4 linked regions of the Homo sapiens genome follow. The protein of the gene in region 1 interacts with the protein of each later gene in a biochemical or structural test. Each region holds a gene or a part of one and is shown in the gene's direction. Other genes may lie near its edges.

What was found.
Region 2: the proteins of ZEB1 (region 1) and TRIM26 form a complex in vitro, tested with the Homo sapiens proteins (one study listed by BioGRID).
Region 3: the proteins of ZEB1 (region 1) and USP51 form a complex in vitro, tested with the Homo sapiens proteins (2 studies listed by BioGRID).
Region 4: the proteins of ZEB1 (region 1) and SMAD7 form a complex in vitro, tested with the Homo sapiens proteins (one study listed by BioGRID).

The regions. Positions count from the first base shown.
Region 1 is NC_000010.11:31,503,631-31,511,708, forward strand, and holds part of ZEB1 (zinc finger E-box-binding homeobox 1), read left to right. Parts: intron 1-7,042; coding exon 7,043-7,245; intron 7,246-8,078. UniProt on the Homo sapiens protein: Acts as a transcriptional repressor. Inhibits interleukin-2 (IL-2) gene expression. Enhances or represses the promoter activity of the ATP1A1 gene depending on the quantity of cDNA and on the cell type.
Region 2 is NC_000006.12:30,183,472-30,190,001, reverse strand, and holds the end of TRIM26 (tripartite motif-containing protein 26), read left to right. Parts: intron 1-468; coding exon 469-584; intron 585-802; coding exon 803-835; intron 836-3,443; coding exon 3,444-4,126; 3' UTR 4,127-5,547; downstream 5,548-6,530.
Region 3 is NC_000023.11:55,486,347-55,495,340, reverse strand, and holds the start of USP51 (ubiquitin carboxyl-terminal hydrolase 51), read left to right. Parts: upstream 1-5,492; 5' UTR 5,493-5,565; exon of another isoform or gene 5,566-5,975; 5' UTR 5,976-6,172; intron 6,173-6,294; exon of another isoform or gene 6,295-6,352; 5' UTR 6,353-6,401; coding exon 6,402-8,537; 3' UTR 8,538-8,994.
Region 4 is NC_000018.10:48,919,214-48,927,291, reverse strand, and holds the end of SMAD7 (mothers against decapentaplegic homolog 7), read left to right. Parts: intron 1-5,381; coding exon 5,382-5,920; 3' UTR 5,921-7,439; downstream 7,440-8,078. UniProt on the Homo sapiens protein: Antagonist of signaling by TGF-beta (transforming growth factor) type 1 receptor superfamily members; has been shown to inhibit TGF-beta (Transforming growth factor) and activin signaling by associating with their receptors thus preventing SMAD2 access.

The DNA.
Region 1 (8,078 bases):
TTGAGAAATCTCCGTAGTATTTTCACAGTGGCTGTCCTAATTTTCATTCCCACCAAGAATGTATGAGAGTTCCCTTTTCTCCACATCTTCACCAGCATTCATTAGTTTTTGTCTTTAATAGCAATACTAACTGGGATGAAATGATATATTATTGTGGTTTTGATTTGCATTTCTCTAATGATTAGTGATGGTGAGCATTTTTTTGTATATCTGTGGCTATTTGTATGTCTTCTTTTAAGAAATGTTTATTCATATCCTTTGCCCACTTTTCAATAGGATTATTTGGGTTTTTTAAATCTGTTGAATAGTTTGTGTATTCTTCATATTAGTCCCTTGTCAGATGAGTAATTTGCAGATATTCACTCTGTTGTTTCCTTTGCTGAGTCTTAGCAATAAAGTCTTTGCCTACCCAAATGTCCTGAGTGTTTTCTGTATGTTTTCTTCTAGTTTTATGGTGTTGTGTCTTATGTTTAAGTCTTTCATTGATCTTGAGTTGATTTTTGTATGTGGTGAGAAATAGGAGTCCAGTTTCATTCTTCACATGTTAATATTCAGTTTTCCCAGCACCATTTATTGGAGAGTGTGTCCTTTTCCTGGTGTATGTTTTTGGTGCCTTGTCGAAATCAAATGGCTGTTAATAATGTGGATTTTATTCTGGGTTCTCTGTTCTCTTCCACTGGTCTGTGTGTCTGTTTTTTACTAATGCCATGCTGTTTTCCTTACTGTACCTTGTATTATATTTTGAAGTCAGGTAGTGCGATGTCTCCAGCTTTGTTCTTTTTGCTCAGGATTGCTTTGGCTATATTGGTCTTTTGTGGTTCCGTAAAAGTTTTAGGATTGTTTTTTCTGCTTCTGTGAAAAATGACATAGATATTTTGATAGGGATTGGATTGAATCTGTAGATCGCTCTGGGCAATATGATCATTTTAATGATGTTAATTCTTCTGATCCATGAGCATGGGATGTCTTTCCATTTACTTGTGTCTTCTTCAATTTCTTTCATCAATATTTTGTAGTTTTCCTTGGAGAGGTCTTTCACCTTCTTGGGTAAATTTATCCCTAGGTATTTTACTTTTTTGTAGCTACTATAAATGAGATGGTCTTCTTGATTTATTTCTCGTCTAGTTCATTATTGGTGTACAGAAACACTGCTGATTTTTATGTTGAGTTTTGTATCCTGCAACTTTCAGTTTATTTAGCAGATTGCAGTTTTTTGGTTGTGTCTTTAGGTTTTTCTAGATATTAGATCATATAGTCTGCAAAGAGAGACTATTTGACTTCTTTTCCAAATTGGATGGCTTTTATTTCTTTCTCTTGCCCAATTGCTCTGGCTAGGACTTTCCAATACTGTGTTGAATAGGAGTGGTGAAGGAGTGGAAATCCTTTTCTGATTACACTTCTTAGAGGGACGTCTGTCAGCTTGTTCCATGCAGTATGCTGTGGTTCTGTCATATATGTCCTTTATTATATGGAGGTGAACCATCTTTGCATCCCTGGGATAAATCCCACTTGATCATATTGCATTATCTTTTTGACGTGCTGTTAGATTTAGTTTGTGAATATTTTTTTGAGGATTTTGTATCTGTTGTCATCAGGGATATTGACCTGGATAGTTTTCCTTTTTTTGTTTCATCTTTCTCTGGTTTTGGTATCAAGATAGTGATGGACTTATAGAATGAAGTAGGGAGAATTCCCTCCTCTTCAGTTTTTTGGAATAGTTTGAGGAGAACTAGTGTTAGCTCTTCTTTGACAGTTTGGTAGAATTCAGCAGTGAACCCTTTCAGTCCCGGACTTGAAATATTCATTATGGATTCAATCTCATTACTCATTATTGGTCTGTTCAGGTTTTCTATTTCTTTCTAATTTAATCTTGGTAGGCTGTGTCCAGGAATTTATCCATATCCTCTAGGTTTTTCAGTTTTTTCATGTATAGTTGTTCATAATTGTCTCTTTTGTATTTCTGTGGTATCATTTGTTAGTCTTCTTTTTCATTTTTTATTTGCATCTTCTCTGTTCTTTTCTTAGTCTAGCTAGTGGTTTATCAGTTTTGTTACCTTTTCAAAAAAACCAACTTTTTGTTTTGTTATTTGTGTTGTTTTTTAGTCTTCATTTCATTGATTTTGTTCTGATTGTTATTATTTCTTTCCTTCTTAAATCCTAATTTAGGGTTTGCTTTGTTCTTGCTTTTCTAAGTTCTTGAGGCACATTGTTAGATTATTTGAAATGTTTCTATTTTTTGTTTTAGGTATTTATTGCTATATACTTCCTCTTAGTGCTTTTGCTATATTTCATAGGTTTTGATATGTTCTGTTTTGATTTTCATTTAAAGAAATTTTAATTTTAATTTCATTTAAAGAAATTTTAAATTTTCCTCCTTATTTCTTCCTTGACCCCGTGGTTATTCAAAAGCATGTTGTTTAATTTTCATGTGTGTGTAGAGTTTCCAAAGTTCCTCTTATTATTAAAATCTATAGTTGTATTACTTTGTGGTCTAAAAGCTACTTGATATGATTTTGATTTTTAAAAATTTGTTTGAGACTTGTCATGGGTCCCAACATACAGTCTATCCTAGAGTATGTTCTGTGTGTTGATGACAAGAATATGTATCCTTTAGTAGTTGGTTAAAATGTTCTGTAAGTGTCTCACATCCATTCGGTATAAAATGCAGTTTAAATTCAGTGTTTCTTTGTTAAGTGTCTTTCTACATGATCTGTCTAATGCTGATAGGGGTGTTGAAGTCCCTAACTATTATTGTATTAGAATCTGTCTCTCCCTTTAGATCTAATAATATTTCCTTTATATAGCCAGGTACTCCAGTCTTGGGTACATATATGTTAAGAATTGTTATATCCTCTTACTGAATTGATTCCTTTGTCATTCTTTAATGACCTTCTTTGTCCCCTTATACTGTTTTGTTTACTGGATTTAAGAGTTTATCTCATTATAGCTACTCCTGCTCACTATGGTTTCCATTTGCATGGACATCTTTTTCTGTCCCTTTACTTTCAGTCTATATGGATCTTTACAGGTGAGATGAATTTCTTCTAGGCAGCACATAGCTGGGTCACAGTTTTTATCCATTCAGCCAATCTGTACCTTTTAAGTGGAAAGTTTAATCCGTTTATGTTATTATTATTGATATGTTAGAGCCTATTTCTGTCATTTTGATTTCTGGTTGTTTTGTGTATCATTTGTTCCTTTCTTTCTTACTGATTATTATTGTGGTTTGATAGTTTTCTATAGTGGTAACATTTGAGTTCTTTCTCTTTCTTATTTGTACTTGTTCTACCAGTGGATTTTATATTTTCATGTGTTTTCATTATGGTAGATATCTTCCTGTCACTTCCATGGATAAGACTCCCTTAAACATTTCTTGTAGGGCCAGTCTAGTGGTCATGAATTCTCTCAGCTTTTACTTGTTTAGGAAAGACTTTATTTCTCTTTCATTTATGAAGGATAATTTTGCTGGGTATGATATTCTTGGCTGGCAGGGTTTTTTTCTTTCAATACTTTGAATAAATATATCATTTCTTTCTCTCCTTGCCTATAAAGTTTCTGCTGATAAACTGCTATTAGTCGTATGGAGGTTCCCTTACAAGTGATTGGACACTTTTCTCGTGTTGTTTTTAGAATATCTCTTTGTCTTTTACTTTTGACAGTGAATATAATGTGCCATGGAGAAGATCTTTTTGAATTGTATCTATTTGGGGGTGCGCTGAGCTTTCTGTATCTGGATGTCTAAATCCTTTGCTAGACTTGGGAAATTTTTGGATATTATTTCATTAAATAGGTTTTCTATCCCTTTTGTTTCCTCTTTGCCTTATAACACATCAAAAATTCGAATATTTGGTTACTTTATAGTTTCTTATATGTCACACAGGCTTTGTTCATTGTTCTTTTATTCTTTTTTCTCTTACTAGGTTATTTTAAAAGACCTGTCTTCAAGTTCTAAAATTCTTCTTCTGCTTGACCTAATCTATTGCTGAAGCTTTCAGTTGTCTTTTGTCTTTCATTCGGTGAATTCTTCAATTCCAGAATTTGTTTAGTTCTTTTTTATGATACTTACCTCTTTGGTAAATTTCTCATTCATATCCTGATTTGTTTTTCTGGTTCCTTTGTGTTGCTTTTCTGTTTTCTTCTATCTCACTTAGCTTTTATAAGATCATTATTTTTAATCATTTTCCAGGATTTCATAAATTTATTTTGATTGGAATCTGTTGCTGGATAATTATTGTATTTTTTGGAGGTGTCATATTTCCTTCCTTTTTCATGTTTCTTGTATTCTTACCTTGATACCACACATCTGGTATAATAGTCAATTATTCTGGTTTTTTGGATTTGCTTTCATTGGTTGAGTAGGGCACTTTGGCTTTGATTCTGGGTACATGTGGTAGTGTAATTTCTGTATGATATCTTTCGTTATAAATAGTGTGAGTAGGGTCCGTGATTTCCTCGTTGGCTTAGGTGCAATTGTTAGTGGAGGCTGAGGTGAAGTTTGGCTGGGACAGGGATGCCAGGTGGACCATTCCTTGGGCCCTAGCAGTGGTAGTAACGGGCTTACAGTACCTGTCCTTAGACCACAGGGTGGCACATTGACACCTTGTGTTAGCAGGTCCAGTTGGGCTGATCCTTGGAACTCCAGGTGGCTTGCTTGGGTGCTGGTAGTGGCAGTGGTAAGCTGGGCAGGTGGGCAGGTTCTCAGGCTCCTGGGCAGTGGATGTCACTTGGGCAATGGCAGTAGCAGTGGCAGGACACCCTCTGGTTCCCTAGTGATTCACGCTGGTGTTGGCAGTGACTGCAATGGGCTGGGTGAGTCAGTCCCCAGGCCTACCGGTGGTGCATGCAGGAGGGTGCCAGCTGTAGTGATAGTAGCAGGTTGGGTGGACCCAACCTCAGGCCTCCAGGAGGAGTGTTCAGGTGACAACAGTGTTGGACTGGGCTGGGTCATCCCCACGTCCCTGAATAGCATGCTCGGAAACTGGGGAGGAGGTAAGCTGGGCCAGATGGACCTGTCCTCAGGCCCCTTGGTGGTGTGTGTAGGCATTGGCTATCATGGCAGGGGCAGGATGATCCCAGGCCACCAGCAGAGTGCTCAGGTAAGGACATCAGTGGTTGCACTGTGGCCTTCTTACTGGGGAGGGCAAGGTTGCTCTTGGTGGCAGCAGCCATAGGGAGGGAGCTGGGAAATGTGCGCTTTAGCCCCAGACAGCGGCTGTGGATGGGGTAGCCTGTCCTCAGGTCCCTTATAAATGCTTAGCAGCTCAGCTGCTGAGGAAATTAGGGTCGCTGCCAGTGGCTAGCACTTTGTCCCCAGCGGTGGAAGCCCACAGTGGCAGCAGTCTGTTGGGGAGTCTGTCCTTGGGGCATGTAAAAATGTGTGCAGCTCCTCTGCTGGGAGGAGGTATGGTCACTGCCAATGGCTTGCACTTCAGCCTTAGCAGCCGCAACCAGCATTAGTGATGACTGGGAAGGGAGGTATGTCAGTGGGGCTCAACAGGATGTAGTCTGTTGGGGGTTGGGCTCTCAAAATAGTGCTGTGCTGTAGCTACTTAGAACTCAGGGGGTGTACAGATTCAGCATAAGCTCCCTCTCCGGAGCAGCATTGTCATGTGGTCTCCACATACCTCCCTGTGTTAGTCTCAGAGCCCACGATGGTCCAGGGGTTCTCCCATGGCTAGGATTGCAGGAGTCCATGGTGGGAATGTGGACCCCTGGGGGTCTCTCACTTACTCTTTCCCTGCATTGGAGAGCCTTTGCAGGTTGCTTTACTTCCTTCTTCCTTACTTGAGGTGTTTCCTGTCACTTTTCTGTTGAATTCCAGTGTTCTCTCTTAGATGATCTATGTGAAGTGTGATTATTACCTCATTATTTTGGTTTTTCCTTGTAGAGGAGGTGAGTACCAGATGCCTCTATTCAGCCATCTTGAAGCCCCTCTCTCAACATATTTGACCAACTATTTAACATTCAGGTGCTCAGTCTATTATTTGCAGTCTGGTCCTTGAGCAAGACATTTGATTTATATGGACTTGAATAAAGGAATATATGTTCAGAAAGCACTTGGAGATTTTATGAAATTATCTGTGGTGGTTTGTTTTTCTATAGTGAATTCAAAATGAAAATAGAGATGATGTTTACAAAAAGATATCACTTAATTTATTTCATTGAAGAAATGTCAAATATGGAAAACTACTCTTAGTTAAATAATATTAATTGGCAAAATATTACATTTTAGGATTGTCAGGCTTAGACAGCTCCAAGTGTAAAAATAAAGTTCATTCAGTAAACTAATTTATTCAGAATGCCTTTGTTTTCTAAAAGCTATATATATTCATACATATACAGTTATATAGCAGATTTGCCAGTGTATTTCAATAGGGGAAATTACAAGCAGGGTCATGCATGGGATGTGTTTATGTAGCAGGCCTAGATCTGGCCCCCATCAGTCTTTCCTTCCCCACCTTACACACTATTTTTTTGGTCTGAACTCAGTCCTATGGCCACACCTACCTGCAAGGGACTCTTGGAAACATAGTGTGTGTGTACTGTTTACTCTTTGATGATGATGACTTGGTAGTTTCATTTTCAAAATCAGAGGAATAAACATTAAATAAATAATGATACATACCATTGTTACCAATAGACTCTGTTGTAGAGCACAAAATTCCCCTTTAATCTGTATACACTTACAAAGACAACCTACATTCTAATTTTACTTTTGTTTTCTTTTCTAGCTAATCACATGACAAAAGGGAAGAATTATGGTTTAGGGAAAAAGAATGGGACTTGAAGGTCAGACAGCCCGTATTTGAACCCTGACTTCATCATTTTCTGGCTCTGTGACTTTTCTTTTAAGTTATTTAACCTTCCTGGAAACCACTGTTCTCTCTCTTATAAAATAGAGATGAGTATCATTGCATTGTTTTGAGGATCAAATATAAAGTGGGTAGCACAATATCTGGAACATAGCATAGGGACTCAGTGGAAACTTTGGTAATATTTTCTGAATGTTTTAAATTTAAAATATATGATCTTTCTTTTACAGGAACACCAGATGCATTTTCACAATTACTCACCTGTCCATATTGTGATAGAGGCTATAAACGCTTTACCTCTCTGAAAGAACACATTAAATATCGTCATGAAAAGAATGAAGATAACTTTAGTTGCTCCCTGTGCAGTTACACCTTTGCATACAGAACCCAACTTGAACGTCACATGACATCACATAAATCAGGAAGAGATCAAGTAAGTGCAATGACTGAGAGTTCACTAACTTTCCAGATTTTGACAACTCAGCCCTCAATGGAAGGCAAGGATTTTAATATATTTGAAAGTTAAAAGAATGTACTAAACAGTGCTATATCTGCAGCCTTATAAAAGTGAAAATGATTATTTATTTGAGTTATCTGGTCATTCCTGAGATTAAAAACCACATATGAACGTTACTTTAGAGGTAACTCAGTATTTTGTTCAGGTAAGACCCTTTCCATCTTGACTTAATTATTTTGCTTATGCCATAACAGTTAATTCTTCAAGTTTAGAAGATGTTAAATTGCATTCTATTAAAATGTTCAGTGTAGGAAAAATAAGTACTGACTATATAAACCACATTATACTAACCAAATTGACAAGAAAGTCAAATTAAAAAGTTTAAGTTTCTTTGAACCAGTTACTATTTATTCTCAGTATAAGCTACGTGGTTTTTTTCCCCCGTAGTAAAGGGAGTTGCCTCCTCTAAAAATCTAAAGTTTAGATTTTTTTATTCTGAAGACTCAATTTTTATATGGTTTATTCTACTTCTGTGTCACTGTGCCCCAGTTTTCAGAAGTATAAACCAAGACTGTTTTGTAACTATAAGTTACATTTAAATTGCTGGTTCTATATTTAGGATTAAAGTCAAAAAAGCTTTTATCAGTTGTTCCTCTTTTACAAGGTCCTCATAGTTATCAGCCATCAACAATGAAATTAATATTGCCTTAATTCTAACTTTAAAAATTAAATAAATTTTCAGCCACACAGGGTTTGTGAGGGTACATGTTGGGGTTAGGCCACATTTCCAGTTTCTTACATCAAAGAAT
Region 2 (6,530 bases), on another chromosome or scaffold:
TCCTCTCCATGGCGTACCTCATCCCCCTTGTTTATGTTCCCCCGCTTCTGACCAGGTGCATTTGAATTCATGGGGAGTGGTATGGTGCCAGAGGTACTCACATCCCATGGTTCATCCTGATGCCCTTCTGAGGAGCAGGACACATCATTGAGAACTGGAGACTTGCTCTCCTCCTTATGGTTCTCTGTGTAGCCCCAGCTCCTTGGCCCACTGGCCTTATTTGAGGTGGGACAGAGCAGAGAGGTTAGAAACATGGCTTAGTAGACAGAGCGCCCTGGATGTGGAGTCTACTGATGTTCTGAAGCCCTGGTTCAGCTGGTGTCTTTGGGCCACTGTTTTTCTGTCACTTGTTTGGGGATAATCATACCTTTCCTCTCCCCTTCATAATTGCCATGAGGATTGAGAGATAAGTATGAAGGAAAGTAAGAAGAGCTGAGTAACAGCTTGTTATGTATGTCATCTTCTTAGGTATCCACGGAAGAAGTTCTGGGTTGGGAAACCCATTGCTCGAGTGGTTAAAAAAAAGACCGGAGAATTCTCAGATAAACTCCTCTCTCTGCAACGAGGCCTGAGGGAATTCCAGGGTAAGGGTTGGGGAGCGCACAAAGGGTGGGAGTCAGAGCAGGGCTACCTCGTAGAAAGAGCGCACCCAGCTCCTTTCCATCACCTTGTCGATCCTCACTCTTCTGAGGGCCTCTTGTCTTAGACATGGATCCCTATCAGGAAATTGATACTGCCCGAGCAAGAAATGGGCTCATAAATTTTCGGGACTTGAGTCATTGCTGTCCTTTTTTCTCCCCAGGGAAGCTGCTGAGAGACTTGGAATATAAGACAGGTGAGTGTCTAGAGGGTGTTTCCCAGATGTACATCAAATATAGAAAACTCCGCCTGCAGAGATTCTGACTGCTCACTTTTCCCCCAGGTAGCCCCTTTTGCAACAGGAAGAATTTCCCAGCTGCACAATAGAAGCCCCCCTCCCTCTTTGCACTTTCTAATCAGCCTACTCTTTAGTCTGCAGTAGAGGCCTCTGCTTGCTAGTCTGATCCTTCTCTGCCCTGTGTTTGCTTTTCTTTTTCCTATCCTCACAGGTCCTACCACCAGTCCTTTTCCTGTGGCCGAGCTTTCTCTCATCTTCCTGGCTGCATGGCTCCTATATTCAGAGCAAACAGCAGGGGCAACCTAAGACCAGAGGCCATATCCACCACAGGCCCCACTATTGTGCCCCCTCTCAGCCCTGCAGTTAGGTTGTACACTGCATACCAACCACCAAGGAGCGCCATCCACATAGACCAAGATGTGAATGGTGCCCCTTGGATTGTGAAGACTGGTGGTCTCCTCCTGGCTCACTTTCACACTTGCTTTCGTGAGAACCATTGAGGAGGTCGGCCTGTCTGGGAGCAAACGAGGCCCTGAGAGCTTCATCTAGTTCACAGGATAAAATCCCATAGCAGAACTGAGTTAGCAGTGGTTAAACCTTAGGTGGTTGTAGCTTCTTTATTAATGTCTGAGCTGTCTGTGAATACCGTCAAATTTTACCTATCAGGTTATTCTAATTATAGAGAATCCTATGAGGATGATGGTGAGGATTATCCCACTCTGTCAGTACCTGTTCAGGGTTTCTTGAACCATCTTACAGAGCAGGCTGGTAGTTTTGAAACTGAAATTGAACAGTTTACAGAGACCCTGAATGCTTGTGTTACAACAGATGATGCTTTGCAAGAACTTGTGGAACTCAGAGGCCACATCTGTCCCAAATTTCTTTTTTTTTTTTTTTTTTTTTTTTTGAGACGGAGTCTCGCTGTCGCCCAGGCTGGAGTGCAGTGGCGCAATCTCGGCTCACTGCAGGCTCCGCCTCCTGGGGTTCACGCCATTCTCCTGCCTCAGCCTCCCGAGTAGCTAGGACTACAGGCGCCCGCCACCTCGCCCGGCTAATTTTTTGTATTTTTAGTAGAGACGGGGTTTCACCGTGTTAGCCAGGATGGTCTCGATCTCCTGACCTCGTGATCCACCCGCCTCGGCCTCCCAAAGTGCTGGGATTACAGGCGTGAGCCACCGCGCCCGGCCTTTTTTTTTTTTTTTTTTTTGAGATGGAGTCTTGCTTTGTCTTCCAGGCTGGAGTGTAGTGGTGTGATCTCAGCTCACTGCGAGCCCCGCCTCCCAGGTTCACGCCATTCTCCTGCCTCAGCCTCCTAAGTAGCTGGGACTACAGGTGCCCACCACCATGCCCGGCTAATTTTTGTATTTTTAGTAGAGATGGGGTTTCACCATGTTAGCCAGGATGGTCTCGATCTCCTGACCTTGTGATCCACCCGCCTCGGCCTTCCAAAGTGCTGGGATTATAGGCGTGAGCCACCGTGCCCAGCCCCAAATTTCTCTTACATGGGAGCTCACCTGTGTAATTACCTGACATCATCTGACAGTTAGCACAGAGAGTAGCACCTTCCGCCAATTTCTACTTCAAAGATGTCGGACTGAATATGACATTAAAGATCAAGCTGCAAAAGGGGATGAAGTTACTCCAAAACAATTTCATGCATTTGTACCCTTTCTGGGAGAGCTTTATCATAACCTGGAGATCAGAGGAACAAATGGACAGGTTACAAGGGCAGATATTCTTCAGGTTGGTCTTCAGGAGTTGCCGAATGCCTGAATGCCCTCTTTTCTAATCCCGTGGATGACAGCTTAATTTGTGCAATAAAATTGCTGAAGTTGACAGGGTCAGTTTTGGAAGATTCTTGGAAGGAAAAGGAAGGACTGATATGGAAGAAATTATTCAGGAAATTGAAAATGTTGTTATAGATGCAAGCTGTGGCAGAGACATGAAACAGATGCTCTTGAAGCTTGTAGAACCCCAGTGCAGTAATTGGGGTAGAGTCCATGCAACTTCATCATACAGAAATACAACAGCCAAAAAAGATCCCAATTACTATGTGAATGAACCAACATTTTATAGTGGTCATTCACATAGTTATTGTGTTTCATAGTGTTCCTTTCACTGCAGCTGATCCGGATTACCAAGAAGCATATCAAGAGTTACTTGAAAAAGAGGACTTTTTTTCTGGATTATGAAGAAAATGGAACAGATTTTTCAGGGACTGGTGATCCACACTTGGATGATATTAATGATGAGTTGGACCCAGAGATCCAGAGATAGAGGAAGCTTATGAAAAGTTTTGTTTGGAATCAGAGCGTAAGCGAAAACAGTCAAGTTAAATTTCAGTATATCATGTTTATAAAGCAGTTTAGTTATGGTGATTTAGCAGAATACAAAGCCAGAAAATGTGTCACACTTATACCAAATTAAGGATGTTGAGTTATATTACTAATGTATGCAACTTTAATTTTGTTTAACGCTATCTGCCAAAATAAATTTTATTCCCTCTGACTTAAAAAACAAAACAAAACAGTGATGCTGTTTTTTTTTTTTTCCCTTGTCCCCACAGTGAGCGTCACCCTGGACCCACAGTCGGCCAGTGGGTACCTGCAGCTGTCAGAGGACTGGAAGTGCGTGACCTACACCAGCCTGTACAAGAGTGCCTACCTGCACCCCCAGCAGTTTGACTGTGAGCCTGGGGTGCTAGGCAGCAAGGGCTTCACCTGGGGCAAGGTCTACTGGGAAGTGGAAGTGGAGAGGGAGGGCTGGTCTGAGGATGAAGAAGAGGGGGATGAGGAGGAAGAGGGAGAAGAGGAGGAGGAGGAAGAGGAGGCCGGCTATGGGGATGGATATGACGACTGGGAAACGGACGAAGATGAGGAATCGTTGGGCGATGAAGAGGAAGAAGAGGAGGAGGAAGAGGAGGAAGTTCTGGAAAGCTGCATGGTGGGGGTGGCTAGAGACTCTGTGAAGAGGAAGGGAGACCTCTCCCTGCGGCCAGAGGATGGCGTGTGGGCGCTGCGCCTCTCCTCCTCCGGCATCTGGGCCAACACCAGCCCCGAGGCTGAGCTTTTCCCAGCACTGCGGCCCCGGAGAGTGGGCATCGCCCTGGATTATGAAGGGGGCACCGTGACTTTCACCAACGCAGAGTCACAGGAACTCATCTACACCTTCACTGCCACCTTCACCCGGCGCCTGGTCCCCTTCCTGTGGCTCAAGTGGCCAGGAACACGCCTCCTGCTAAGACCCTGAGCCCTGACATCTGCCCCCAGCCCCAACCCTCAGATGCTTCACTTCTTTGGAATTCCAGGACTCTCAATGGGGGGACGGGATGCCTGGCCTAAGCACCTGGAGCAGGGGACCCCATATCCACTGGTAGCCACCTCCCCATTGCTGTGGCCCCCTGAAATCTCACTCAGTGCTGTTGCTCCATCTACTGCCCTAATGGGGCTCTTTTCCCACCTCCTGCTGGTTTCCCGAGGGAACTTCTGACCCTGGAGTCCATGAGGGCTCCTTTCCTTTTTGACCACGACCTTGGCCCCAGCTCTGCACTCTCTGGAATAAGGGCCCGATGCAGCATTTTCTTGCCCAGTGTGGCAAGACCTCAGAAAAACCAGTCAATTACGCCTAAGATCATTTTGCTGTCCTTAAACCCCCCAGGTTCCTTCTTGCACAAATCCACTCTGCTGCCCACCTTCCCTGGCATTTTAAACAGACCTACCCCACCCCAACTCAGAGTTAAGCATACATGGCAATGCTGAAAATAAACAAAATCCACTGAGGCTTCCCAGGCCATTTAAAGCCTGGAGTACCAGCGCATATCATCTCATGGGGTCCAGAGTGGAGTCCAGGCTTCTCTGAAACCAGGGCTGAGCATATTTCCATAGCCAAGGAGGTGGGACTCCCTGGAGCTATCTGTGGTCTTAGGGAAGGATCCAGACATACACGGCTTTGGGGTACAAGCTGTGATCACTGATCAATAAATTATCTCTAGATTGGTCCTTGTGAGGGGAGTTTTAAGAATCCAGAACATCTTGCTCTTGATCAGCACATCCAAAAACACCAAGACAAACATCCAGTGGAGCAGAACCTCTCCTGCCTCGGGAGTTCTGACCGGGTTCCCCAGCAGGGTGTTAAGCCTCTGTCTCTGGCCCTACCAGCATCCAGGTTCCACTTTCCTAGGAGAGAGTGGAGATGGGAAGACAGGGAAAGGAAGGCAGCAGGAGGCCACAAGCCCACCAGGTCTTCATGTCAAGAGAGGGAGTAACATGTCTTCTCATTGCCCACGGACCCAACCTCTGTCCAGGTGCCCCTCATCATCACAGTTTAACACAAGCTCCCCTGCTCCAGCCAAATTGATCTCCCAGTCTTGTCCTTACCCATTCCAAGTGCTCTGCCAGCCCCTGTTCATCCAAGTTTTAAGTCCTCCACCCTGTTCTAAGAGACTGTTCCAACGGCTCTGGGCCTCAGTGGTCACTTGACCACCATTGTCTCAGAGCTGCCCACTTTGTGTGTGTCACATGCTGCCTGAGTCACATGTACATCTTATTTCTGCCTCTAGTTTTGTAAGCTCCTGGAGGGCGGATAACATCTTATACTACTCTTGTATTCTCATGGCACCTAGTGCAGTGCTGGGCACAGAGTAGGTGCTCAATAAAGACTTGTTGAATGAACAGCCTGGAGATCTGTATTTGTAGGTCTATATCTATATTATATCTCAAATGCCACCAGACCTCAGTCTGGCTACAGAGAAATTCCACTGATAGCAGTAGCCGAAGGTTTTCCTTCTGTGCCTTCTGTAACAGTGTAACTTTGCTTTCTGTTCTCTGCACACATGCTGTCATTTCTGGAAGTCCCTCAAAAAGAGCCTACTGCGGAACACAGACGAGTTGTTGCGTGGCTCCACCTTTTTATTCCTCCTGCAGTGGTGCCCTTGAGCTGAGGTCCAGCGTTTTGGAGCAAGTGATGACTCTCCCTGAGAAGGGAGACCTCCAGTATAGCACACCCAAAAATTCTTCCTTGGAAAATAAGCACTGCCTCAGAGGAAATAGAATGTGCAGAGATTCAGCCTTGCATCCTAACACAGTCAACTGTTTTTCTTGTCCTTTCTGATTTTTTTTTTTTTTTTTTTTTTTTTTTTTTTTTTTTTTTTTTTTTTTGAGATGGAGTCTCACTCTGTCTCCCAGTTTGGAGTGCAGTGGCGCCATCTCGGCTCACTGCAAGCTCTGCCTCCCGGGTTCACGCCATTCTCCTGCCTCAGCCTCCCGAGTAGCTGGAACTACAGGCGCCCGCCATCACGCCCGGCTAATTTTTTTGTATTTTTAGTAGAGACGGGGTTTCACCATGTTAGCCAGGTTGGTCTTGATCTCCTGACCTCATGATCCACCCACCTCGGCCTCCCAAAGTGCTGGGATTACAGGCGTGAGCCATCGCGCCCAGCAGTCCTTTCTGATTTTTTAAATTGCCATCTTAAAGATGGAAAAGGGAGGATTATACGAAACTACCTGTAAAATTACGCTAGTGGCAAAGAGCATATTTCCTCTCTGTTCTCTAAGTTGTGGGCTCATGTAAATTTTCCCTTTTTATTTTTTATATTCATAGTTTTTCATTTTGTATAACTCTACTTGCACATATGGTAAACTTTCTACAGTGCTTC
Region 3 (8,994 bases), on another chromosome or scaffold:
TTGTTAAGTTTTAGTTAGGAATGTAGATTAAATTCGGAAAAATACTTTTTTTTCTGAATCTGTTGAGATGATCACTTTGTTCTGTTAATGTCATGAATGAATTAGATTCATTCCTGAATGTTGAACTAGCCTTGTAATTTTTAATGAATATCACTTCATCGTTATATAATATCCTTTTATAGCTTGCTTGATTCAATTTGCTAATATTTTATTGAGAATTTTTGGATCTTGGTTCATGAGGGACATTGGTCTTTTCTGGTAATAAAAGACCAATGTCTTTTATTGGTCTTTTCTGGTAATAAAAGACCAATGTCTTTTATTGGTCTTTTATCTGTGTCAGGTTTGGCTCTTTCTTCTTTGACTCGTGGGTAATTTAGAAATGTGATTTTTTAAGCACCATATAATGGAGACTTTTCTATGTATCTAAATATTATTGATTTCTAATCGGTTGTGAACAGAGGATGTACTCTGTATGATTTTCTTCCTTCGGAATTAGTTAAAACTTGTGTTATGGTCCTAGAATATAGTGTATCTTAGGGTTGGCAAAGTACGCCCTGTGAGCTGGCAGCTTGTTATTGTCAGTTAAGGGTTTTTTTTCTTTTTAATACGGTCACACCCATTTATTTATACATTATTTATGGATGCTTTTATACTAAAACGTCAGAGTTGAGTAGTTTACAAAACCTAAAATATTTACTATTTTTCTAAGAAAAAGTTTCTCAGTTCCTGTATCTTACTGAATACTAAGCACATTTCAAAAGATGTGTACAGTCAGCCCTCCATATCTGCAGGTTACACATTTGTGGATTCAACCGTCAATTGAAAATACTTTAAAACATAAAACAGAAACAAAAATGACAATACAATAATAAAAAGTAATAATACAAATTAAAAAAAATACAGCATAACCATATTCACATAATCGTATTAGGTATTATAAGTTGTCTAGAGATGATTTAAAGTACACGAGCGTATGTGCATAGGTTATATGCAAACACTATATACCATTTTATGTAAGAGACCTGAGCATCCAAGGATCTTGGTATTCACGGGAGTCCTGGAACCAATCCCCTGCAGATACTGAAGGAAGACTGTATTTTATGGTGTACATTAGTGGTGTATTTCATAACTATCGATTACCACAAGTTGGTTCACAGTGTTGTTTAGTCTTCTATATCTTTATTGACTTATGGCCTTTTGTTTTATGAATTATTGAAAGAGCAGTGTTAAAATATCCAACTGTGATTGTGGGTTTTCTATTTTTTTCTTTAATTCTGTCAGTTTTAAGTGTTAACACATTTATGATTTTGAAATAATGCTCTTTGTTTTTGTATCTCTCCTTCTTCATAAATAGGGCATACCAAAGTTTTGTGAGAAAAAAGAAAGAGAAAAGAGCACACGATATGCACTTAATAAATGGTCTGTAATTCTTTGGCCCACTAAGCAGGCAAAGTGCTCAGGGCATCGTAAAGCAAGCCTAGTCAGAGAGAGGTCTGTGCATGTGTGTGGGGAAAAGAGCTGCGCCTTTATTTTCACCCACCTCTAACTTACAGTGATCATGTCCTAAAACTATGAGCCTAGGCATGAAACTCCATTGATAGTAGTACTACATGTGACTGTGTCGCCAACAAAAATTTCGGTATCACATTACACTTCTTTCACATTTCTCAGAGTATCACCTATGCTCAGCACTACTTTGAAACTATGGTAGTTATTATACCCATCTTGTGATAGTTATGTAAGGTTTAATTAAAAAAAAAATTTCCTCACATCACAATATCTTTCTAAAAGTACAAAATGCCATCTCCATACAATGCATTTTTATAATCCCGTGTGTTTAGTTATATATATTTATGTTAAAAATATCATTGTCTTAAGGGATCCACCGGCTGTACCAGGATATCAAAGGGATCCAAGGCACCAAAAGGCTGAGGATCCCTACTGTGATGGTTAATATTAGGTGTCAACTTGATTGGACTGAATTGAAGGACGCCTAGATAGCTGATAAAGTATTGTTTCTGGGTGCATCTGTGAGGGTGTTGTCAGAGGAGACTGACGTTTGAGTCCGTGGACCGGGAGAGGAAGACTCATCCTCAATGTGGATGGGCACCATCCAATTGGCTGCCCGCACGGGTAAGGCAGGGCAGATGGAAGTAGGTGGGACAAGCTGGCTTGCTGAGTCTTCTGGCTTTCATCCTTCTCCCGTGCGGGATGCTTCCTTCTGTTCCTCCTGCCCTCGGACATCAGACTCCAGGTTCTTTAGCCTTTGGGCTCTTGGACTTACACCAGTGGTTTGCAGGCGGGCTCTTGGGCCTCGGGACACAGACTGAAGACTACACTGTTGGCTTCCCTACGTTTGAGGCTTTTGGACTCAGACTGAGTCACTACTGGCTGCTTTCTTCCCCAGCTTGCAGACGGCCTATCATGGGACTTCGCCTTGTGATCATTTGAGCCAATTCTCCCTGATAAACTCCTTTTCATATGTATACATATACGTGTGTGTGTGTGTGTGTGTGTGTGTGTGTGTGTGTGTGTGTGTGTAGGATACATATATCCTATTAGTTCTGTCCCTCTGGAGAACCCCAACTAAAACACCTACTCTAGGGGATGTTTTGAAATGAACATCCAAGGGCAAAGGGAAGGCAATGGACTGACAGGCCGCATGTTTTCACATATGTAATCTCATGTGCACGGACAATACAGAGGCTTCTGTGGTTGAAGTGCTGGAGCCCACAAAAGCAGAAAATGAAGCTGAGGTTGGACCTACTCAGGGGTGGGGGTGGGGGGGAGTTGGAGTAAGTTGGGCAGTTTCCATTTTAACCAAGAGACCACAGGGAGTCACCATGGGTCTGTGGGCAGGAGAGGGCACACTCCAGTGGTGTCTGAGGCTGTTGCTTCAGAAGGTTGGAGGCAGACCAGCTACGAGCTGGAGCACAGGAAGAAAAGGAACAGAAGAGGGGATCCATCCAGTGAGGGGACAGGGGCAGGAGGCTGGGCAGACAAATGTGGGCCCCAAAGGACTGGAACCCAGTCCATGGCACCCTCCCTGCAGCCCTAGTCAGGGGCAGGTAATGGCTCCAAGTCTGCCCTTTGGGATGCTGGCCTCTGAGAAGCGAGGTCATTGAGGGGAAGAGGCCCAGATTGGGAGAAAGAAGGCTGTGTGAGGCTTCAGGGGTCCAGTTTTCAAGGTACTGAGCGAGCCACCAGGAGCACAGAGGCAGGCTTTTTCCCAATCCTGCTCTTTCATACACCACCCCACTCCCAAAGGACCCTGCCACACCTGCCACAGCTAGAATCTGTAAGAGACGCCAACATAACACAGGCCTGGGAAACCAGCTCCATCAGACATGGCTCCTGCTACCAAGGCCAGAGTGCCTTGACCTGGGCTTCTTTACACATTATCCCACAGTAGTGGTTCTCAAAGTACCATCTCCACGCCAGCAGCATCCGCATCAGCTGGTACAGCGTTAGAAACCTAAATTATTGGGCCTCACCCAACCCACTGAACTGGGAACTTTGGGAGTGGGGTCTAGCAGTCTGTTAAGTCCACCAGAAGGTTAGACGCAGCTTCATTTTGGAGGAACCAGTGAACTCCAGAAAGGCCTAAACCATGCAGACCCATTCATTTTCATTTTGACAGTAGTGACCCATCACGCTGTCCTGAGGTTTTCCTACAGGACAATTGTCAATGAAGAAATCGTTTGTTTGGTCACGATAGCGTGTGGGCTGATTTAAAGGCGTGTCTAGCTCAATAACAACTGTTTTCAGAAACTTTTTGAAGCACTGTAACAATCCCACCTCCCAAATATTAAGTTGTTGATTACGAGTGGTTTTTAGGCCTTTATTAACTAACATTAATCTTCACAGCACATTCCTATGCATTTCCCGATGTGGACCTCAGGCAGGGACTCTGGCTTACTTGCTTTTGTGCCCAGTTTTGTTTGGCTGTATATTCATAGTGCCCAGTGCAGCAGTAGGTGCTCTTTACATATCTGCTGAATAAACCAATCTAGGTAGGGCTGGCATTCTCATGATTCTGATTTTGCACAGGAGAAAGCGAAGGCTCAGAAGACAGAAGTATTTATAAATTGTGCCCTGCCTCCCTGCCTGCATAAAGGGTGCAGGGCTGTCTCAGAGCAGCTGGGATCCAAGCCACAGGTGGCACAGCTAGCAAATGACTGACTCAGCATTTCCTTCTAGGGCTGCTAACCCAGAGTGGAGCAACTCTTTGCTTAGCTGTGGCTGAGAAAATGCCCTTCCCTAGGGGAGAAAAAGCACGTTTTCCTGCACAAGCCAGTCTATAATTCCAAAGCACTTTCCCTCCGGGTGCTAGTATGTGACTGAGATATGGTCGAATCTAAACCAAGTCACAAAATCAGTGATATCCATTGTGCGGAGGTATCCACTAGATGCCACTGCCAAGTTAAGAGAGCTGAATCCTAATCGTGAGGTTTTGAGGGGAGGTGTGTGACTTTCTCAGAGAGATTAAATGTAGCATTAAACATCCGCTGTAATAAACCGTAATTTTCTTGGGATTGGACCGGAAGGGCAACAAGCCCTGGAGATAGCTTTCCTCCGGGTTGTCGCCTTGGATGCCGGATCTGTCAAAGAAAAGGAAAAGTCTCCTGGCGTATGGACTTCAGGACACAAACAGTTGTATCTTGTGCTTCTCCCAGCACAATCTAGCGCTATAATGCACCTATGGCATCTTTGTTGAATACATGCTCCTGTATATGGACTGCCTAGGATGGATGATCGGGTGAACTGAGCCATAACTTTGAGAGAGCTTTGAAAGAGAAAGGCATTCTCTTCTCCTCTACTCTGCATCAGGAGTTGTTCTCTATGCTGATTTTCAGGAGCGGACTGAAAAAAGAGGTGTGACAGATAAAGCTCGCCAAAAAGGTCTTTTACTTGATATATACTATGACTCAGTGTTCACATTGGGCTAGGGTTATTATTTCAATTTCTCTTTAAAAATTGACACAACTAAGGCTCAGAGAAGTTAAGTGTTTTATCCGAGGTCACACAGCAAGCATGTGCCTGGGCTCAGGTCTCTCTGAGCCTGAGCCCTTGCTTATGCTTCCTCCCCTGCACATTCTGGGATAATCTCTCTCTCTTTCTCTCTCTCTCTCTCCCTCCCTCCCTCCGTCAACTCCCAGAGACCAGGCTCTGACAGGATCCTGAGGGATTCCTGCCAGAGGGTTGCCATCTCTGGAAGCCCCCACCCCCACGCCGGGTGAATCTTTTTTTCTGTGGAGTGCGGGCCTGGAGCTAGGTGAGGCCTGAGCCTCCATTTCAGGGGCTTTCTGTAGAATCTGTTGCTGCTGTTGCCTCCAGCAGAGTCTGTTTCAGGAAGAGGTTTGCCTGCCTGCGCGGGACAGCGGTGCCATTCATCACTGCAGGAGGGCAGAATCCGGGGTTGGGGGCCGCACGTCGAGAGGGGAGGGGCCAGGGGGCGGCCCCCTTGTGACCAGCCCTGAGGAGAGGTCAGGAGAGAAGGCTGGCTGAGGAGCGCCTGGACAGCAGCAGTTGCTGACGTTCTATATCACGCGCCTGGGGCCCAAGGTAACCCAGACCTTTAAACAAACTGCCGGGCTGGGGGTGTTGCGGGGGCAGGAGAGGGAAAAGGGAGCGGAGACTTCGGGGGTCGCGCGAGGATAGTGGTGGCCATAGAGGTGGCAAATGCGTGAAGGGAGGGAGTAGTAATCCGAATTCTAGGAGAAATCATAGGAATTGAAGTCGCAGAAGCAAGAAAAGGGGTGTGAGAGCACAAGCGCGAAAAAGCGTGAGAGGGCGCAAGAGCTGGGTGGACCGAAAGTGCGCTGAGGGGCAACGGCTTAGAGTGGAACACACCGGGTCACAGAAGTATAGGTTAGGTAGAAACAGAGGGACACTTTCTTCCTGTGAGTTCATTTTCCAAAAGTGCGTCCTTTCAGCCATTTTGGAGAGAAAATGTTGACCCAAGTGTTTTTTAGGATACAGGGAAAGAACGTCAGAGGAAGCTGCACCAAAGCGAGGCTGCGCAGGGCGCAAAAAAGCAGTCAGAGGGTGGCGCCTTTTTTAAAGAAGTTTCCATCCTTTCTGTCCTAAAGCTCAGGCCGTTCCCCACCCCCACCGCTCGCTAGCCTTCTGTTCCCAGTCCCCTGGCATGATCTGATCGCCTTTGAAGCAGGTAACCGCCTCGGTCTCCCCATCAGCTCCAGGGGCCTCTCAGTTGAGTGGGTGGAGCCGACAGAAGCCGCGGGCTGAGCTCAAGGGCCGATGGGAGGGGTCCTGGGGGCGCTAACTGCGCACCGCGGCCATGACGCTGGGCAGATCATTCACAGAAGTCTCTGTCTCCTTTCATCTACAGTCGCAGCTGTTTTCCAGACGCCTTGCTCCTCAGGTCGGGGAGTGATCTGATGGCCCAGGTTCGAGAAACTTCTTTGCCCTCCGGCTCTGGGGTCCGCTGGATCTCCGGAGGTGGGGGAGGAGCCTCTCCTGAGGAGGCGGTTGAGAAGGCGGGGAAAATGGAGGAGGCGGCGGCGGGGGCTACGAAGGCGTCTTCGAGACGTGAAGCCGAGGAGATGAAGCTGGAGCCATTACAAGAGCGTGAGCCCGCGCCGGAGGAGAACTTGACGTGGAGCAGCAGCGGCGGCGACGAGAAGGTGCTCCCTTCAATCCCCCTTCGCTGTCACAGCAGCTCCTCGCCCGTTTGCCCGCGCCGCAAGCCCCGCCCTCGGCCCCAGCCCCGGGCCCGCTCCCGCAGCCAGCCTGGGCTCTCGGCCCCACCCCCGCCTCCAGCCCGGCCCCCGCCCCCGCCGCCACCCCCGCCCCCACCCGCACCGCGGCCCAGGGCCTGGCGTGGATCCCGGCGCAGATCCCGGCCTGGGTCCAGGCCTCAGACACGGAGAAGCTGCTCTGGTGACCTAGACGGGTCGGGGGATCCTGGCGGCTTAGGGGACTGGTTGCTGGAGGTCGAGTTTGGTCAGGGTCCCACAGGCTGCTCTCATGTGGAGAGCTTTAAAGTAGGTAAGAACTGGCAGAAGAACCTGAGGTTGATCTACCAGCGTTTCGTTTGGAGTGGGACCCCAGAGACTAGGAAACGTAAAGCAAAGTCATGCATCTGTCACGTATGTAGTACCCATATGAACAGACTCCACTCTTGTCTCTCCTGTGTCTTTTTTGGCTGCTTCACTGAGAAACATATTCACAAACATGCAGAAACAAAGCAGCACCATTTAGCTGTAGACCTTTATCATGGGGTCATATATTGCTTCATGTGTAAGGATTATGTATATGACAAAGACATAGAACAGATTGCCAAAGAAACAAAAGAAAAAATTTTGAGATTATTAACTTCCACCTCAACAGATGTTTCTCATCAACAGTTTATGACATCAGGGTTTGAAGACAAGCAATCAACCTGTGAGACAAAGGAACAGGAGCCAAAATTGGTGAAACCCAAGAAAAAGAGAAGAAAAAAGTCAGTCTATACTGTAGGCCTGAGAGGGCTAATCAATCTTGGGAACACTTGTTTTATGAATTGTATTGTCCAGGCACTTACCCATATTCCTCTACTGAAAGATTTCTTCCTCTCTGACAAGCACAAATGTATAATGACAAGCCCCAGCTTGTGTCTGGTCTGTGAAATGTCTTCGCTTTTTCATGCTATGTACTCTGGGAGCCGAACTCCTCACATTCCCTATAAGTTACTGCATCTGATATGGATCCATGCAGAACATTTAGCAGGGTACAGGCAGCAGGATGCCCATGAGTTCCTTATTGCAATATTAGACGTGCTACATAGACACAGCAAAGATGATAGTGGTGGGCAGGAGGCCAATAACCCCAACTGCTGTAACTGCATCATAGACCAAATCTTTACAGGTGGCCTGCAATCAGATGTCACATGTCAAGCCTGCCATAGTGTTTCTACCACCATAGACCCATGCTGGGACATCAGTTTGGACTTGCCTGGCTCTTGTGCCACATTCGATTCCCAGAACCCAGAGAGGGCTGACAGCACAGTGAGCAGGGATGACCACATACCAGGAATCCCCTCACTTACAGACTGTCTACAGTGGTTTACAAGGCCAGAGCACCTAGGAAGCAGTGCCAAAATCAAATGCAATAGTTGCCAAAGCTACCAGGAGTCTACTAAACAGCTCACAATGAAAAAATTACCCATTGTGGCTTGTTTTCATCTCAAGCGGTTTGAGCATGTAGGCAAACAGAGGCGAAAGATTAATACCTTTATCTCCTTTCCCTTGGAGCTGGACATGACTCCGTTTTTGGCCTCTACTAAAGAGAGCAGAATGAAAGAAGGCCAGCCACCAACAGATTGTGTGCCCAATGAGAATAAGTATTCCTTGTTTGCAGTGATTAATCACCATGGAACTTTGGAAAGTGGCCACTATACCAGCTTCATCCGGCAACAAAAGGACCAGTGGTTCAGCTGTGATGATGCCATCATCACCAAGGCTACCATTGAGGACTTACTCTACAGTGAAGGGTATTTACTGTTCTATCACAAACAGGGTCTAGAGAAAGACTAGTCTTACCAGACCACTTACTGAAAAAAAAGTAAATGATTAGGCAAGGATTTTGAAGTGACACACAGACCTACTTGGAATGGACAATGACAGTAACACCTATGTGACAGCTAGTATCTTGATATAAAGAACCTATTTTAGCATGGCCCATGGGTCTGTCGGAAGAAAAAAATGAATACTAACCAGTGACCATTCAACCTTAAGAAATGGGGAGAGGGAGAAGAGGTTGAAAATGGTCACATAAAGCATAATGAAATGAAAAGAATGCTTTAGGTGGGGACAACGGGAGTAGAAGTGTTCTGATGCTACTCTATGTCATTTGTTTTTACAGAAATATCTTGTGAAGTCAGGGAGTATTCCTTTATCAGCAAAAACTTCACAATTGGTGTTCCAGCTGTGGCTGACCAGCTAAATAGTTTGAAAGAAAAATAATATTTTAAAATAAAGTTTAAAGAGCTTT
Region 4 (8,078 bases), on another chromosome or scaffold:
CTTCCACCAGCCAGGATTCATCGTCTGATCTGTTTGGGGAGAGAGCATGGGGTGGTGGAGATGGGTTGGGCCCCAGTGTTTTCTGATTAACTCGCAGTTTACCTGAAACATTTTGGTTTGTTTCCTCCATGAGGAACTCACTCTAAACCCCAGCATTGTCTGTGTTTCCTGAGGAGTCTGAGGGAGCTCTGGGGTCCTATTTCCTCTTTTGGATGAGGCTGTGAGCATGGTGGATTAGAGACAGCCCCTTAAAGTTAGCCCAGATATCTCAGCAAGTTTTACGCGTCTCTATTTGGGGGAGGGATTCGCCTATTGAAAACAAGAGACCAGCAAGGGTCCTTGTGAATTATGATGGTTTGGCGTGAGAATAGATGGGATGGATTGGCACTGGAGTCCCCTTTTATCTTAGGCTTGTCCCTGAAGAGGGCTTGTTGATATCAGAACAGCCAATTTCCTGACAGGGTTGGGAGCAGGGGATGGGTGCTGTTAACCTTTGAGATGTCCGTTGTGGAGGGAGAGACAGGATGAGGCAACCGTTGGTGGCGCCTGGGTCCTGAGGAGGGAGGACCCTGGACCTGGCGTTAGCGAGGCGTGGTGATGTTTGCGCTCCCAGGTTGCCAGGTGCAAGCTGTCTGTGTCCACATTTCTGCCCTTCATTTGCCCCTGATTGGCACAGGGAGCCTGCAGGAGGCGGCCGTGCCTGCCCAGGCGCCCTTCCTCCCCAACTTCTCCGTCCTCAGCCTTCTGCTCTGCTGGACCATGGAGGAGGGGGCTGATAGGCCCGTGGCCCTGTTGGACTTTGGCAGAGGAATATCACTTCATTATCCAAGTGCCTCACAGAGATGAGAGCCGGTGGAGACCCGTCCTCACTCGCCTTTGACCCCAGCTCCCGGTACCCTAGCAATTGGGCACATTTAACCGTGGGTCATCAGCTGATGGAGCTCATGTCTTTACTGGCTTTTTTCCCCAAGCTTGCCCTTGTTCCTAAATGGAATCTTGGGGGACCCCCTCCCCACAAGTACGTTCTTTGTGTGTCTGGGCCCAGTCAGGCCCAGATAGCTTCTCTTCCACGCGTGCCCGTGTTCTCATAACCCCATGGCTGTTCTTGGAGCTGCTCTGCCTCTCTGCCCTCTGCCTTCAGGTGGAGAATGGTATTGTTGAGGCACTGAGCAAGGCCTTTCCCCCCTCCTCCCATTTTTCTTCTTTCTCATCTCCTGACGCCTTCAAATTAAAAATTTAAGAAGGGGTCTGGGTGCGGCGGCTCACGCCTATAATCCCAGCACTTTGGGAGGCTGAGGCTGGCGGATCACGAGGTCAGGAGATCGAGACCATCCTGGCTAACACGGTGAAACCCTGTCTCTACTAAAAATACAAAAAATTAGCCAGGCGTGGTGGCGGGTGCCTGTAGTCCCAGCTACTCGGGAGGCTGAGGCAGGAGAATGGCGTGAACCCGGGAGGCGGAGCTTGCAGTGAGCCGAGATTGTGCCACTGCACTCCAGCCTGGGCGACAGAGCGAGACTCCATCTCAAAAAAAAAAAAGAAAAACATTTAAGAAGGGGAAAATTCCTTGCTTAACCTAAAATGTGGCCTTGAGGCCTGGTCACCCTGTGCCATTGAGACCTGGGGTGTGAGGTTCATTCACGAGCCTCTGGTCTCCTGGAAGGGTCTGGTCTGTTCATTCATGAGCAGGGTAATTAAATAACTCTTTGTAAGAGTCAGGGAGCTCCTTGCTAAGTGGTCTTCCCCAGTTGGAGCGCAAACACAGGCTGAAGTCCTCTCCTTTCTCAACACCCACCTCCCCCTTCCCTTTAAAGGGAGGATTTTATGCTTTAAGGGAAATGGGGAAGGTTGGGGGGGGGCAACACCTTAAAGGAATTTTAGGCAGATTCAGCATTTTTCTGGTGTTGCTCCAAAAATTCCCCACACTGTAATAAAAAGATACAACTGTGAGCAGGCATCTGATTAGTGAGCTTTTTACAACACAGCTTTTCTTTTGGATGCTTTAAAATGAACACATACTGTTTTAAAACAAGCCCCTGTACAGTTTTCTGGGGAGGGGGAGAAGTTTGTGGAAAATACCGGAAAAGGTTATAAAGCTGAGGGAAATTAACAAAGGACTGTGAGTTTTGCCTTCAGAGGTTAACTATCAGCGAGAGGCCAAGGCTCTTCCTTAGTCCTTGTACTGACTGAACTTCCCAGCCCCTCGACACGTGGCCCGGGAAGTCCCTGGGAGCAAAGCGTCCACACAGACCTTTGTGGGGAGACTCGTGTGGGCTGTGGGCCCGATTCAGGGAACTGTGTTTCTGTGAAGATGAAGCTGAGCATTTCCCAGAAATGAGCCCAAATGGCGGGGAATTCAGGGCAAAGGGGAATCTCTGTAGTGGCAATGGGGGATGTCGTGCGGGGTCCCCAGAAGGTGTGATGTCCACACAAGGGTGTGTGTTCGAGGGGCCTTTGCTGTTGCCGAATGGTTTTGCTGGAAAGCTTGTTTTTTGTGTGTGCTTAGAGATAGTCCCGGCAGGAGGAGACTGGAGCTGTCCTAACGGGAGGACAGAGGCTGCTGGTGGGGGAGCTGGAGGGGACAGCGAGGGAGGAGCAGGCAGGAGTCTCCCTGCGGTGGGTTAGGGCACCAAATGGACTTCAGGGCCCTTGTTCACACACAGCAGCATTCACGACATCCATGCATTGCAGTTTTTCTGGGCTGGGCCATTAACCTCAGCAGAAAAATGCTTTTTCCAGGGGGTGTCTGGCAGCACATTGCTGGCGGGCTGCACAGATGAAACAGAAACCCACCTGACACTTCCCCGTCCTGCTACAGATCTCAGGCTCCAGTCCCCACCCAGCTTCCTCTGCCCCCAGAGGCCCCCACCCTTGGCAGACAAGGCTTCCACCCCTTGCCTAGGTGGCTGACAGGCCTGGCATGGGGGCACCTCGATCTCAGGTCCATACTCCACTCACTCCCTTGCTCCTCCTCCTCCTCCTCCTGTTGGCCGGTGCCAGGTTTCAGTGGGTCCTGGCTGCATGAAACAAAGCATTGTGAGGCTCTGCTGAGGGTCTCCCACCCACCCTCCCTCCCGCCTCCTTCCCAGCAGCTCCTCGAGTCTTCCTTTCCAGGCCAGGTTTGTTGTCCCGAATTGGGAAAATAAGCAAAAGCTTCTTGTGTTTCAGAACACCCTCCTCCACACCAAAAGGGTGGATGTGCTGTGCCTCCCGGAAGAGGGCTTTCTCCCCCGCTTCACACTTGATGCCAATGTGTCCTTCCTTCCCTGGGCGTTCAGGTCTTTGGTGTAGCCTTCAGAGCTGAGTTCCCTCAGCAAGAAAGTTCAAAGATTGCCAGCGCTCACAAGTTTATTAGCAGTTGATGGATACTTTGCAGAAACAAGTGAATGCCTGATGAGTCACCTTCTCCCTGTCCCTGTCTTGTTTTCCATATGTTCCAGTACGTATGTGCACACAGAAACACACATAACACACACTCGTACACACTGACATCATGGACACAGTCTTGCACACGCACATGCACAAGCACTGGACTTCCAAGCTACATGGGGGGTGGTGACCGGCCAGTTTTCTGGTGTTGATTTTTAGTGGGGGTTGGGGGTTGAGGGAAAGGAATGAGACCTCAGTGTCCCCTTTTTGTGGAGCTTTTGGGGCAGGCATTTGGGAAGGCCAGCTTGGGGTGTCTGTAGGGAACCGCTGCTCTGGGTGTGTGTGTCTGTGGCTGCCCCAGCAGGCCGCAGTGTGCACATTTGTATGGCCTTACTGACGGGCACCTCCATCCAACACTGGCTGCTACTTAAAACAACAACAACAACAACAACAACTGAGTGGAGCCAGTGGGTTCCCAGGTCCTAACACGCCTGTAAAAGTTGGAGCCAGTTAGTGTCCTGGGCTGCCCCAGTTACCCAGCCTGCTGGGGCAGCAGGATGCGGCCCCATCTTCCGCCATGGACCCCCTGCAGGGTGCAACCCATCATCATTGACTCTGAACCCAGTTACTCCAGAAACACAAAGGCCACACCAAAACACATCTCACACTCAACCCCTGCTTTGTGCCCCCCAGGTCCCCAAGAGGAGGAGCTGGGGCTGCAGGGAGCGAGGGCAAGGCCCTGACCGACGTGGGGCCCTTCCCCTCTGCTTTTCCCCCTCTGCTGTCCCCATTTTTGTTAACAAATACAAGACTTCCGGTCTCCACCCTGCTGCCACAAACCACAGCGTTCCTGCAGTCTGGCTGGGCTGGGGAGATTTATGGTCCCAAGTCTGAGGCCTGCCCGCTGGCTCCTACTTAAGGAGGAGTCAGAATGCCCGCCGCCGGGGCTCCCTTTCCCTCCGTGTGACCCCCCTTTTAAAGTCCTCCAAGTGCCTGTTGAGGAAAATTACCTTACCAGAATCACCCCGGCCCCCAGGCTGCCTGTGGGAAGACTGTGTAGGGAAGCGGGGCGGGGCCTGCAGGGGAGGGATGAGGGCGGAGCAGGGCGCCCTGCAGGCTCCAGATGCTTCTGTGGAAGGAGGGGAGAGAGGGGGCACCCCTGGGGATGGGGGTGCCGGCAGAGAAGGGGAGAAGGGGGACGCATCTATTTGAGACACATAATCTTCTGTCTGGGCTGGAGGAAGCTTTGTTAAGGTAGCCCGGGTTAATACCGGTCTGCATGTTGTGATTTGGCATTTTGACATGAATTCACCCTTTGTGTACAGGGCTGCTGCTGACACACTGAGACTGTTTTCCTATTAGGAATATAGATGTTTTTGTCCCAAGCCACCCTCATTTTTATTTTTACCAGATAGGTTCCTCATGACCACGGCACTGATTTGAGAGCTGGGTGACAGGCACCCAGAGACCATCGCATAGGTGGTCCCAGAGTCTAGACACCTGGGTTCTAGCTCTGGCTGTGTCATCCCCTGGTACTCCAGCAGCAGGCTTTCTGGGTCCTGGTTTTCTCATCAGGATGACAAGGGGCTGGAGGAGCTGGCCTTCAAGGTTCCATCCAGTTGAAAGATCTGTAACTCCAGGACGTTGCTGAGGCTTTTTGAGGCCCTAAAAGCAGACTACCCAAGCTATTAAGGGTCCCTTTGCATCTGTGCTCTGCAGAGAAGAGGCTTTGTTGGCCAGGTGGGCACAGATGCTGGTGTACTGGACTCCTGATGGGCAGGGGCCTGGAGAGAAGCAGCACCCAGCGCTTCCTATGCTTAAAGAAAGGCAGGGTCCTGGTCAAAGGGCTGTAAGAGCCTGGGCAAGTCCAGGACTAGCCTCACCGCCTCCTTCTTTCTGTCTCGTCCTGAGAGATGAGCTGGTGACTGGGTGCAGTGGGGGGGCGGGTGTCTTCATTCTAGGAGTCACCAATGCCTGTCCCCACTAACCCTCTCTGCCAATGTGTTTTCTAGATTCCCAACTTCTTCTGGAGCCTGGGGATCGGTCACACTGGTGCGTGGTGGCATACTGGGAGGAGAAGACGAGAGTGGGGAGGCTCTACTGTGTCCAGGAGCCCTCTCTGGATATCTTCTATGATCTACCTCAGGGGAATGGCTTTTGCCTCGGACAGCTCAATTCGGACAACAAGAGTCAGCTGGTGCAGAAGGTGCGGAGCAAAATCGGCTGCGGCATCCAGCTGACGCGGGAGGTGGATGGTGTGTGGGTGTACAACCGCAGCAGTTACCCCATCTTCATCAAGTCCGCCACACTGGACAACCCGGACTCCAGGACGCTGTTGGTACACAAGGTGTTCCCCGGTTTCTCCATCAAGGCTTTCGACTACGAGAAGGCGTACAGCCTGCAGCGGCCCAATGACCACGAGTTTATGCAGCAGCCGTGGACGGGCTTTACCGTGCAGATCAGCTTTGTGAAGGGCTGGGGCCAGTGCTACACCCGCCAGTTCATCAGCAGCTGCCCGTGCTGGCTAGAGGTCATCTTCAACAGCCGGTAGCCGCGTGCGGAGGGGACAGAGCGTGAGCTGAGCAGGCCACACTTCAAACTACTTTGCTGCTAATATTTTCCTCCTGAGTGCTTGCTTTTCATGCAAACTCTTTGGTCGTTTTTTTTTTGTTTGTTGGTTGGTTTTCTTCTTCTCGTCCTCGTTTGTGTTCTGTTTTGTTTCGCTCTTTGAGAAATAGCTTATGAAAAGAATTGTTGGGGGTTTTTTTGGAAGAAGGGGCAGGTATGATCGGCAGGACACCCTGATAGGAAGAGGGGAAGCAGAAATCCAAGCACCACCAAACACAGTGTATGAAGGGGGGCGGTCATCATTTCACTTGTCAGGAGTGTGTGTGAGTGTGAGTGTGCGGCTGTGTGTGCACGCGTGTGCAGGAGCGGCAGATGGGGAGACAACGTGCTCTTTGTTTTGTGTCTCTTATGGATGTCCCCAGCAGAGAGGTTTGCAGTCCCAAGCGGTGTCTCTCCTGCCCCTTGGACACGCTCAGTGGGGCAGAGGCAGTACCTGGGCAAGCTGGCGGCTGGGGTCCCAGCAGCTGCCAGGAGCACGGCTCTGTCCCCAGCCTGGGAAAGCCCCTGCCCCTCCTCTCCCTCATCAAGGACACGGGCCTGTCCACAGGCTTCTGAGCAGCGAGCCTGCTAGTGGCCGAACCAGAACCAATTATTTTCATCCTTGTCTTATTCCCTTCCTGCCAGCCCCTGCCATTGTAGCGTCTTTCTTTTTTGGCCATCTGCTCCTGGATCTCCCTGAGATGGGCTTCCCAAGGGCTGCCGGGGCAGCCCCCTCACAGTATTGCTCACCCAGTGCCCTCTCCCCTCAGCCTCTCCCCTGCCTGCCCTGGTGACATCAGGTTTTTCCCGGACTTAGAAAACCAGCTCAGCACTGCCTGCTCCCATCCTGTGTGTTAAGCTCTGCTATTAGGCCAGCAAGCGGGGATGTCCCTGGGAGGGACATGCTTAGCAGTCCCCTTCCCTCCAAGAAGGATTTGGTCCGTCATAACCCAAGGTACCATCCTAGGCTGACACCTAACTCTTCTTTCATTTCTTCTACAACTCATACACTCGTATGATACTTCGACACTGTTCTTAGCTCAATGAGCATGTTTAGACTTTAACATAAGCTATTTTTCTAACTACAAAGGTTTAAATGAACAAGAGAAGCATTCTCATTGGAAATTTAGCATTGTAGTGCTTTGAGAGAGAAAGGACTCCTGAAAAAAAACCTGAGATTTATTAAAGAAAAAAATGTATTTTATGTTATATATAAATATATTATTACTTGTAAATATAAAGACGTTTTATAAGCATCATTATTTATGTATTGTGCAATGTGTATAAACAAGAAAAATAAAGAAAAGATGCACTTTGCTTTAATATAAATGCAAATAACAAATGCCAAATTAAAAAAGATAAACACAAGATTGGTGTTTTTTTCTATGGGTGTTATCACCTAGCTGAATGTTTTTCTAAAGGAGTTTATGTTCCATTAAACGATTTTTAAAATGTACACTTGATTTCATGTTGTCCTCCAACTCCTTTTTCTTCTGCTGCTTGGAGGGAGTGGGGAGGAGTGAGTATTCATCCAAATTCAGTTGAGTTGGCGTCTTCCCAGCCCAGTGCTTGGAGGATGGGAGACGTGGGCCACAAAAGAGACATCTAGAACAGCCCTGGTCTTCAAGAGTGCTGGAAAGACCTGCAGCCACCCAGACATCCCTCCTTCTTGTGTCTTGAATTTGTAATGGGAGACAACCTACAGGAGCTCTGTGGGTGATAATTCAAAGCTTGTAGAATTGAGGACAGGGAATTACATCTAGGGTAATGGGAAGGAGACAGGATTAGAGGATGGATGGATGGAGAAGTTTAGCCCCAAGAACCTGGGTCCATCTGGTTCTTGCCAACTCCTCACTTGGTATTAAATCCTAAGCCTACTGTACCCCTGCTAGACTGGATTCCAGGAGAAGTTTCCTGGGGGCTGAGACCCTGGAAGGGTGATGAAGGTGGGGGTTGAATGTCAGTGGTGTTCAGAGGGACTAGGCCACCTCCTGGCGCCCTCCCAAATACTGTCCTGGGCCACAGAAGTCACAGAGTACAAGTTCCACTCTGCAATATCGTCCCTTGTCTGCTGGGACTTAAGTGACAGTTCACTAGTCCCC